Linked DNA regions of Homo sapiens: region 1 is linked to region 2. The links come from fine-mapping of genetic effects on gene expression. Tissue or cell type: whole blood. Region 2 holds a variant in brackets; the other region holds the start of a gene. All regions are shown on one strand. Distances are between the middles of the regions.

Evidence for each region. PIP is the estimated chance that this variant, and not a neighbour inherited with it, causes the effect.
Region 1: VIPR2 starts here. The variant in region 2 is fine-mapped to the expression of VIPR2 in whole blood (INTERVAL, PIP 0.97).

The regions. Positions count from the first base shown.
Region 1 is chr7:159,143,178-159,147,417 of GRCh38, forward strand. VIPR2 (vasoactive intestinal peptide receptor 2) reads right to left here and starts at 1,690. Exons shown (of 13, transcript NM_003382.5): 1 at 1,544-1,690. The coding sequence starts at 1,594. RefSeq lists an enhancer at 3,488-4,240.
Region 2 is chr7:159,196,243-159,200,482 of GRCh38, forward strand. No RefSeq gene overlaps it. Among named protein-coding and RNA genes, the nearest start is that of VIPR2, 53 kb to the left of the region's middle. RefSeq lists an enhancer at 923-1,032 and a silencer at 1,143-1,212. The variant C/T (reference allele first, on the strand shown) is at 1,800.

The DNA of each region.
Region 1 (4,240 bases), 53 kb before region 2:
GGTGCCACAAAGATAGTAATTAACAGTCTACTAATGTGAGAAGAAGGCAGAACTACACAATGCTTCCTCTCAGAAGGCACCGTTTCTACCTTGTTCTTCACGCCCTCCGCGAAGTCAGCACAGGCCTGCCAAGCGGCCCTTGGGGGCTTAAGGAGGGCTCCCCCCACCCATCCTTTTGGTCTTGATCTTCCCCCTCCCCCACCACCGACCAAAATTCTACTTGTACTAAAGTAGTAACTAAAGAGAATCATACTGTTGGGCGTACTATGGCCATCTATGTTTAGTTATCTTACTATTGAAATGGTCAATGAGAGTTCCAACCAGGAACACAATATCCTAACAGAATTAAGGGGAAAACAATGCTGGAACTTCTGCCACCTTCAGCCCCATTTAAAAGAGCCCCGAGCTTGCTTCTTGCTCGTGACTGAACCAGCACCAGGCACTGACTTTGGGCTCCAAGTCCTCTGTTTTCATGCAGGACAAGTAAGTGGCTTAAATTTCAGAATTAAGGAAATTATATTGATGTAAAAAGAAAAACTTTGTTAAAGTGTAAAAGACATTAATAATACCTGACGTTCCTGGAATATGCACAGCAATGACTTCTTTTAGGACATTTTAGCAATGAAAGCAGCATTAACCGTGATAAAACCCGTTACTTTCCAAGGACCCGCTCCGCAAAGCGCCCACCCTCGAGGGAGGAAAGCCGAGCTGCGCCTCCGCGCAAGGCCAGGGAGTGTGGCTCGAGCCCCGCTGCAGACCGGGCGTCGCCGGTTAATCAATGACACTGTCGGGTCAGCAGCGCAGCCTCCCAGCTGCGGAGGGGCCGCGGATCGATCCAGACCTGCCTCGGCTGCGACGCGCACGAAAACCGCGCGCACCGCAAACCCGCTTCAGTCTCCAAGAGGAAAGCAAGAAACAAGGCTCGGGTTTTTTTCTTTCTTTTTTCTTTCCTTTTTTTTTAAGGTTCACAGAGGGAATAATTCAGAACTCCATGTGCGAAGGCACTTAATCAACAAACTTATGAGCAGTTAGTTCCTCCAGTGCCCTTGGGAAAAAGCAACTATTTCCAAAAGGAAACTTTATTTAACCGACGCCACGTCCCCCCGACACTAAAACTAACCAGTAAGTACAGGGAGGGACCGAGAGGCATCTGCGGCCAACGCCAACCCCGATCTCCCCGTGAAACGCGCAGCCCGCGCAGGCGCCCGCAGCTCCCAGCTCCCGGGACGGCCCCGAACGAGCTCATCGTTGACGCGTCCAGGAAGAAACGATCCCGTTTCCAGCAAACCCCGGACGGTGGGGCGCGGGGAAGGGCGCAGGCAGCCTCCCAACCCGAGTCCCGCAACCCGGCGGGACCGGAGCTCAGCGCTTCACGCTCTCCGGGAGGAAGCTCCGGACCCCGGGCGACCCCGCTCCCTCTCCCGGACCCCGCCCGCGCTCCAGCACCCGGGAGGAAGGCGAAGACCGGCGGGAGGAGCGCTCTTCTCGGAAGGGGAGAACCGGGTCCGAGGCGCCGTGGGGCGGGGGTCGCGGGCGCACTCACGGGGGCGAGCAGCCAGCAGGTCAGCAGCGCGGGAGGCAGCAGCGTCCGCATCCCGAGCTCAGCGTGCCGGGGGCCGCCCAGCGCCCGCCGCCTCCGTCCTAGGTCCCCGCGGTTCCGCCGCCTCCAGCATGGGCCGGGAGCGAGTGCGCGGAGACCTCGGGCCCCGCAGCTGTAGCCGAGCGCCCGAGCGCGGGGGCCGCCCCCTCCGTCCCGGCAGCTGGAGCGCGCTCAATGCACGCCCGTCCCCCACGCGCCCCGCCGCTCCGCCCCCCGCCCCTGTCCCCGCCCCGCGCTGCCCCAATCCTCGTCTCCCTCCTCCCCCGAGAACCCCCGCTCCGCGCCCCTCCTCACCGCCCCCCACTTCCCCTTCCGCTGCGCCCCGCGCCCTCTCCTCGCCCCTGGGCTCTCTGTCCCCGCCGCGCGCGCTCCCTCTGGTCTCCTCGACCCCCCCAGCCTCTCTCTCCGTTCTCCTCCCCTCTTCCCTGGCCCACGCCCCCCTCCCGGCCGCGCCTCCCCGATCTGTGGGCGGAGGGGCTGGGAAGCGGGGTGCTCAGTGCGCGCCCGGCTCCGAGTAGAGAGAACTGGGGGAGAGCGGCCGGCGCGGGGCCGGGAGAGGAGGACCGGGCCAGGTGTGCGCTCGGAAGGGGCGGATGCCTTTGCGGCCGCCTGTACCTGCCTTTCTAAACAACTGCGGAAGCCCAAGAAAGCGGCCAGAGACCCGTCCGGGGTGGGCGCGCCGTCTTTGTAGCCAGTGGGGCTAGGTTGGGGCATCTGAAAATGGAGAAAATCAGAGTGCTTTTTGGTGGGGATCCCCGCAGCCTCAAAGAGGACATCAGGTCGAACAGAAAGCTGGAGAAAAACGCAGACGGGGGTATAGGTGGGTCCCAGCCTCAGCTGGGTGGCGGGTTTTGTGTCCTGCGTTTGCAAAACGGGGGTCATTCTCTCCCCGCAAACGCGGCGGCGGGTGGGGAACGCTGGGCGGGGACTCACGCGGTGCCACTGGGGCCGCCCCGCCGCGCCCCACGCGGGACTGCGCGGCCTCCCAAGGCGCCCGCGTGACCAACCCAGGAGAGCTCGGCGTTCCCCAGCAAGTGGAAAGCACTGGAATGAGAGATACAAGTTAAGTTCGTGTTGTTTTAATTTTTTATTTGGAAATAATTTCAAACTTACACAAAAATTAGAAGAATAAGAATATTACAAATAACTCCTTTTTATCCTTTTTGTGGATTCGGTCATTAACATTTACCTCATTGGGCTTATCATTTGCTTCTCTCTGATCCCCCACCCCCCGTATTCACAGATATCGATTTTTCTATCATCTGATGTTTATCATCCACATTATCTATCATCTACCTATCCATCATCTACGTATCATCTATCGATCTGTCATGTACCTATCATCTATCATCTTCCTATCGATCATCTATCTGTAATCTGTCATCTATTATCTGTCATCTATCATCTACCTGTCCATCATCTACCTTTCATCTATCCATCTGTCAGGTATCTATCATCATGCGCCTATCATCTATCATCCACCTTTCCTCTATCACCTACCTGTCATCTATTATCTATGATCTATCCATCTATTATGTACCTATCATCTATCATTTGCCTATCTTTCATCTGTAATTTACCTATCTATAACCTGTCATCTACCTATTTATCATCTATCATCTGCTGTCATTTATGATCTATCCATCTATCATGTACCTATCATCTCTGTATCATGTATCAATCAGCTATCATCTACCTATCATCTCTCTGCGATCTATTACCTATCTATTACCTACCATCTACCTATTTATCATCTATCATCTACCTCTCTGTCATTTATCTATGATCTGTCATGTACCTATCATCTATTATCTTCCTATCGATCGTCTATCTGTAATCTATCATCTATTATCTGTCATCTATCATCTGCCTATCCATCATCTGTGATCCGGCATATCTGTGATCTACCTGGCTGTCATCTATCAATCACCTATCATCTGCCTATCTGTCATCTGGCTGGCATCTATCAATCACCTATCATCTGCCTATCTGTCATCTGCCTGTCATCTATCAATCTATCATCTGCCTATCTGTCATCTGCCTGTCATCTATCAGTCTATCATCTGCCTATCTGTCATCTGCCTGTCATCTATCATCTGCCTATTTATCATCTATCTGTGATCTATCATATCTGTGATCTGCCTGTCATCTATCAGTCATCTATCATCTGCCTATTTGTCATCTATCTGTGATCTATCATATCTGTGATCTGCCTGTCATCTATCAGTCATCTATCATCTGCCTATCTGTCATCTGCCTGTCATCTATCATCTGCCTATTTGTCATCTATCTGTGATCTATCATATCTGTGATCTGCCTGTCATCTATCAGTCATCTATCATCTGCCTATCTGTCATCTGCCTGTCATCTATCATCTGCCTATTTGTCATCTATCTGTGATCTATCATATCTGTGATCTGCCTGTCATCCATCATCTGCCTGTCATCTATCGATCATCTATCATCTGCCTATCTGTCATCTGCCTGTCATCTATCCTCTACCTGTTATCTATCTGGCTTCATCCATGTGTATCTAGTGGGAGACGAGGAGAGGGAGACCTGGGCCTTAGGCGGGCTGCTTGGCTTGTGAAGAAAGCTCGTGGCGCTGGGTGCCTTCGACAAACGCATCTTTTTCTCCCGG
Region 2 (4,240 bases):
TCCAAGAGCTTAAGAGTTTGCATCTTGGCCACTTTCCCAGCATATGTGCTTTAAAGAGACCAGAAAATGGTGTTTTCAAAATACTTCCTGGAATCTTTTATAAGGTAATAAATCAGCAGGAAAGGTCACCCGGCCTGCTCCTTCTTACCACTTCTGTAATAAACATAAGTTTCCATTAATATTAAATATTTCTTATGACAATTTTAGTCTAAACATATTATCAATTATCTTAGAAATGAACTATGTCACTAATAAAAATCATCATCATATTAATTTTCTATTTGGCTTTCAAATTTATAAAACCTTTATCATCTCATTTGATAAAATCCTGTGATAGTTTCATTACAACACAAATTGCATGTTGTAATCATCTTGCTTAGTTTCTGTCACTTTTTAAAACCTGATTTGTCTGTCACCATGCTGGAATGTCAGTGCCTCTGTGGCATCACCTGTCTCTCTTGCCACCGCCTGGCTCAGGCCTGGCACGTGCTCAGTGAGTTTGCAAGACTGAAGGGCACCCCTGCCTCCACGTCAAATCCCAGGGGTCCCTCACGGCGCTGCATGTGGGAAGATGGAGGCTGAGCCCCAGTTTGCATGCCATGGTGCTGGCCCTCGCGTATGAAATACACCAGTGATTATAAAGGTTAGTGAAAAATCTAATTATGAAATTGTACATAAACTACGATTAACTCTTTTTGTATATAGAAGAGGATACAAGGAAATATATCTAAATTGCTATGTTCACTATGCTCAGTGATAAGATTAAAGGTACATATTTTTCCCCTTTGATTTTCAACATTTTCTCAAACGTGCTTCTATTACTTTTACAAATTATCATAATCAGAGACGTAATACCCTGAGTCACCTGTTGTGTTTACTAAGACAACAAAGTACTTTGGGGTTTCTTTGCTCCTTGCAGACAGGGTGGTGGAACTGAGGGAGACTGCAGCCAGCCCAGTCGTGCCCACCCGGGCTTGCCACAGAGTTCATGGGCCTTGGGGGCTTCGTGCATTCTGCTCCCTGCTTAGAAACAGCCTCCCCCAGGCCTTCCCCGCTCCTTAGCGTGGCTGACTTCCTCTGGTCCTTTAGGGCTCAGCTCACCCGACTCCTCCCAGGAAAAGCTCCCCAGTCAGAGGTTCCTCCCTCTGGTCCTTTAGGGCTCAGCTCACCAGACTCCTCCCAGGAAAAACTCCCCAGTTAGAGGCTCCTCCCACGTGCTTTTATTTAGCTCCCTCAGCAGCTACTATGCGTCTTCATGACCTGTTTACCTCGTTCCCCAGGGAAGTCACAGGCTCCCTGAAGACAGGAGCCGTGTTTTGGTCACGGCCTCCTCGCACTGGCCTGCAGGAGAAGCTCCAGGGATACGTGAACGGATAGATGAGTGAGAGGCTTTGGGTGCCCTGAGCTCGAGTTTGTGTTTTAAGGCAAGTCATATCACTTATCAGTCATATCACTGCAGAATGAGAATGCTAAATTTCTCTTGTTCTTACATCCTGTATTTGCACAGCACTTTCACGTTATCACGTGTGACAGAAGGAAGACAGCCTCAGCCTCCCGGCTCAGCCACTGGGTCTAGTCCATTGGGCACAAATACAAACCTGCAAGGTGTGTGTGGCTCGGAGAGGGGCCCCTCAATGTCAGCAACAAGGGGGGATTTCAGAAGGTTCCAGTCTCCTTCTTACCTCTCTTCTCTACTTCTTACCTTCCTTCCTTTATTTATTCCTCTTTTCCTTCCTTTTTCAAATATTTTGAGCTCCTGCTGTTTCTATGCCAGAGAAGGAGGCAGGCCCCAGCGAGAC[C/T]GAGAGAGCTGAGGGCCCGCTGGCCTGGAGGCCTCCGGAAGGCAGCTCCTTCACCACTTTTGATCCCCCTAAAATGTCAACAGACTTTAACCACTGATTATTTGTCATTTAGACCCAAGTGCTAATGAATCTGTCCCTGGTGAAGTTCAGGATGGGCCCCCGGGAGGACCTCGGGCCTGGGGGAGCTGGTGTGTGGGGTTCTTCCCAAGCATGGCTGAGCATGGAGACGGTGGCCATAGCTGAGAGCAGGACGCTCCCCACCCTTCTTTCCTCACCTTCTAACTGGAAGAGGGGTTCAAGCCCTGCTTGGTGAGGGACTTAAGAAGGTGGACAGAGGCTGCCTCAGCAGGCGTGGGTCTCTCCTCTCTCCACACCTGTGCACCAAGTGGCTCGGCTTCTGTCTGATTCACACAGTGCGTGTCTGTGGGCAGTTTTGTGTGAAAACACATCTGCTGCATAAGAAACGGTGGGTGTGGGTAAAAACTGCTGCCAAGGGAGCCACAGAGTGGAGGCCATAGAGCATCTACTGTGTTTCTCTTCAGTTTCACATGAGGCACATGTCACATGCACACACGTGCACACATAACACACTCACACGTGTGTGCAGAAATCTCACACACAGGACATTCCCCCCACCAATGCCATCCCGAACCCACTGAAGTGCTGGAGAGAAGGAGCCACCAACCCTTTCCAGGTGAGTTCCAGGAGTGAAGAGGACTCAAGGCTGCTCAGAGCCTGGTTAGAGCCACGGACAGAGAACGGAAGCCTCGACTGAGCCGTTAGAGGCAGCAGCCTCCCACTGTCCCCCAAGTGCGGGGTCCAAGCTCTGCCTCAGTGACCAGGCAGAGCCTCGCCTGGGTCCTGCAGGACTCACACGGTGAGTGGATGCTGCTGCCACTGCCGTCCGCACCTCCACTGGTGGTGTTTCAGGACCAGCTTGTCAACTGTAACAGAAACATATATAAAACCAGAATCCATTTCTCTTCTTGAGAAATAATTTAAGATTAATTATAATTTTACAGAATGCATAGTTAGTATAACTGCTGATGAGGGACTGAAGGCATCACATCTTTCTTTCTTTTTTTTTTTTTTTTGAGAGTCTTGCTCTGTTGCCCAGGCTAGAGTACAGTGGCACTATCAGGGCTCACTGCAGCCTTGACCTCCCTGGCTCAAGTAATCTTCCCACCTTAACCTCCTGTGTACTGGGACTATAGGCATACACCACAATGCCAGGCAAATTGAAAAATTTTTTTGTAGAGCTGGGAGTCTCACTATGTTGCCCAGGCTGCTCTTGAACTCCTGGGCTCAAGGGATTCTCTCTTGGCCTCAAAGGGTGCTAGGATTACAGTGTGAGCCCTACATGCAGGACAAAATAAAATCTTAAGCCTGCTGAAATTATCCAACCTCTCCTGTGTCATCAACACTCCTCTGTCAGGATGGCCTCTGAGCTTCCAAAGATGAAACATGGAAACAGGGAAACAGGGTGGGTGAGCTTCTCCCTGGGTGACGTGCCTCTCCAGCTCTCCTTCCTGGATTAGACAAATGAGGAGAGAAGGAATATGTCACATCAAAGACCCATTACTGCTGTTTGCAATATGCTTTCAAAGCATGACATGGAAGTTTGCTGTTTTGTTCATAAGTTTTTATTTAGTTATGATTGTAAAAGGACCAAAAGTTATGCCTGTACTGGTGTGTATACTTTTCAATAAACAATTGTGCATTTTTGATAATTTTTCTATACTATGTTCTGATTGTATTTATTGAAACATAATTTTGTTTCAACTCTAATAAAAACCTACGCTTGCTTTTGTATATCTCTTACAATTATATTTTTCTAGTAATTTATTTTTGTTGTATTTTATTAGTATTAGCCTGTAGTGGCTTGGCAATTAAACACAGTCAAGTCTTCTGCACAGATGGATTAGGAAGCATTCAGGAGGCCCCATCACGGGCATCTCTCCATGCAGTCAGTTCCCTGTATGGTGAGCACGTGCACAAGGCAGTTTGGAAGCTCTTGAGGCAAGACTTTTGAAAATACCCTTGGGGTATATAAGGAGAGTCAGGCCTAATATTTAGTAAATTTAGCTATAAAATAATACAGGGAAGTTCCTGTTTTTATCAGAGTCTAACTGTTCAGCATTTTAAAGAAATGGTGCTTTACTTAATTTTTAAGAAAGAGACAGAGCACATGAAATAAATTGCTGGCAGAGAATTGCCAGAGACATGGAGAAGAATGGTTTTGAGCTTGGGGATTTCTGGGGTTCAGTGCAGATTGTACCTAATCTCCCACCCTCTGACGAAACTGGACAGAAAGAGTTGATGTTCGGAACCAGGCTCCCACGACAGTGAGACACACCTGCGTCTTCTGAGCCATGGGAGGAGTCAAATGTTTTCAGCCAGAAATGTGACCCAATACATCTCAGAAAATGTTCGGCAGTCAG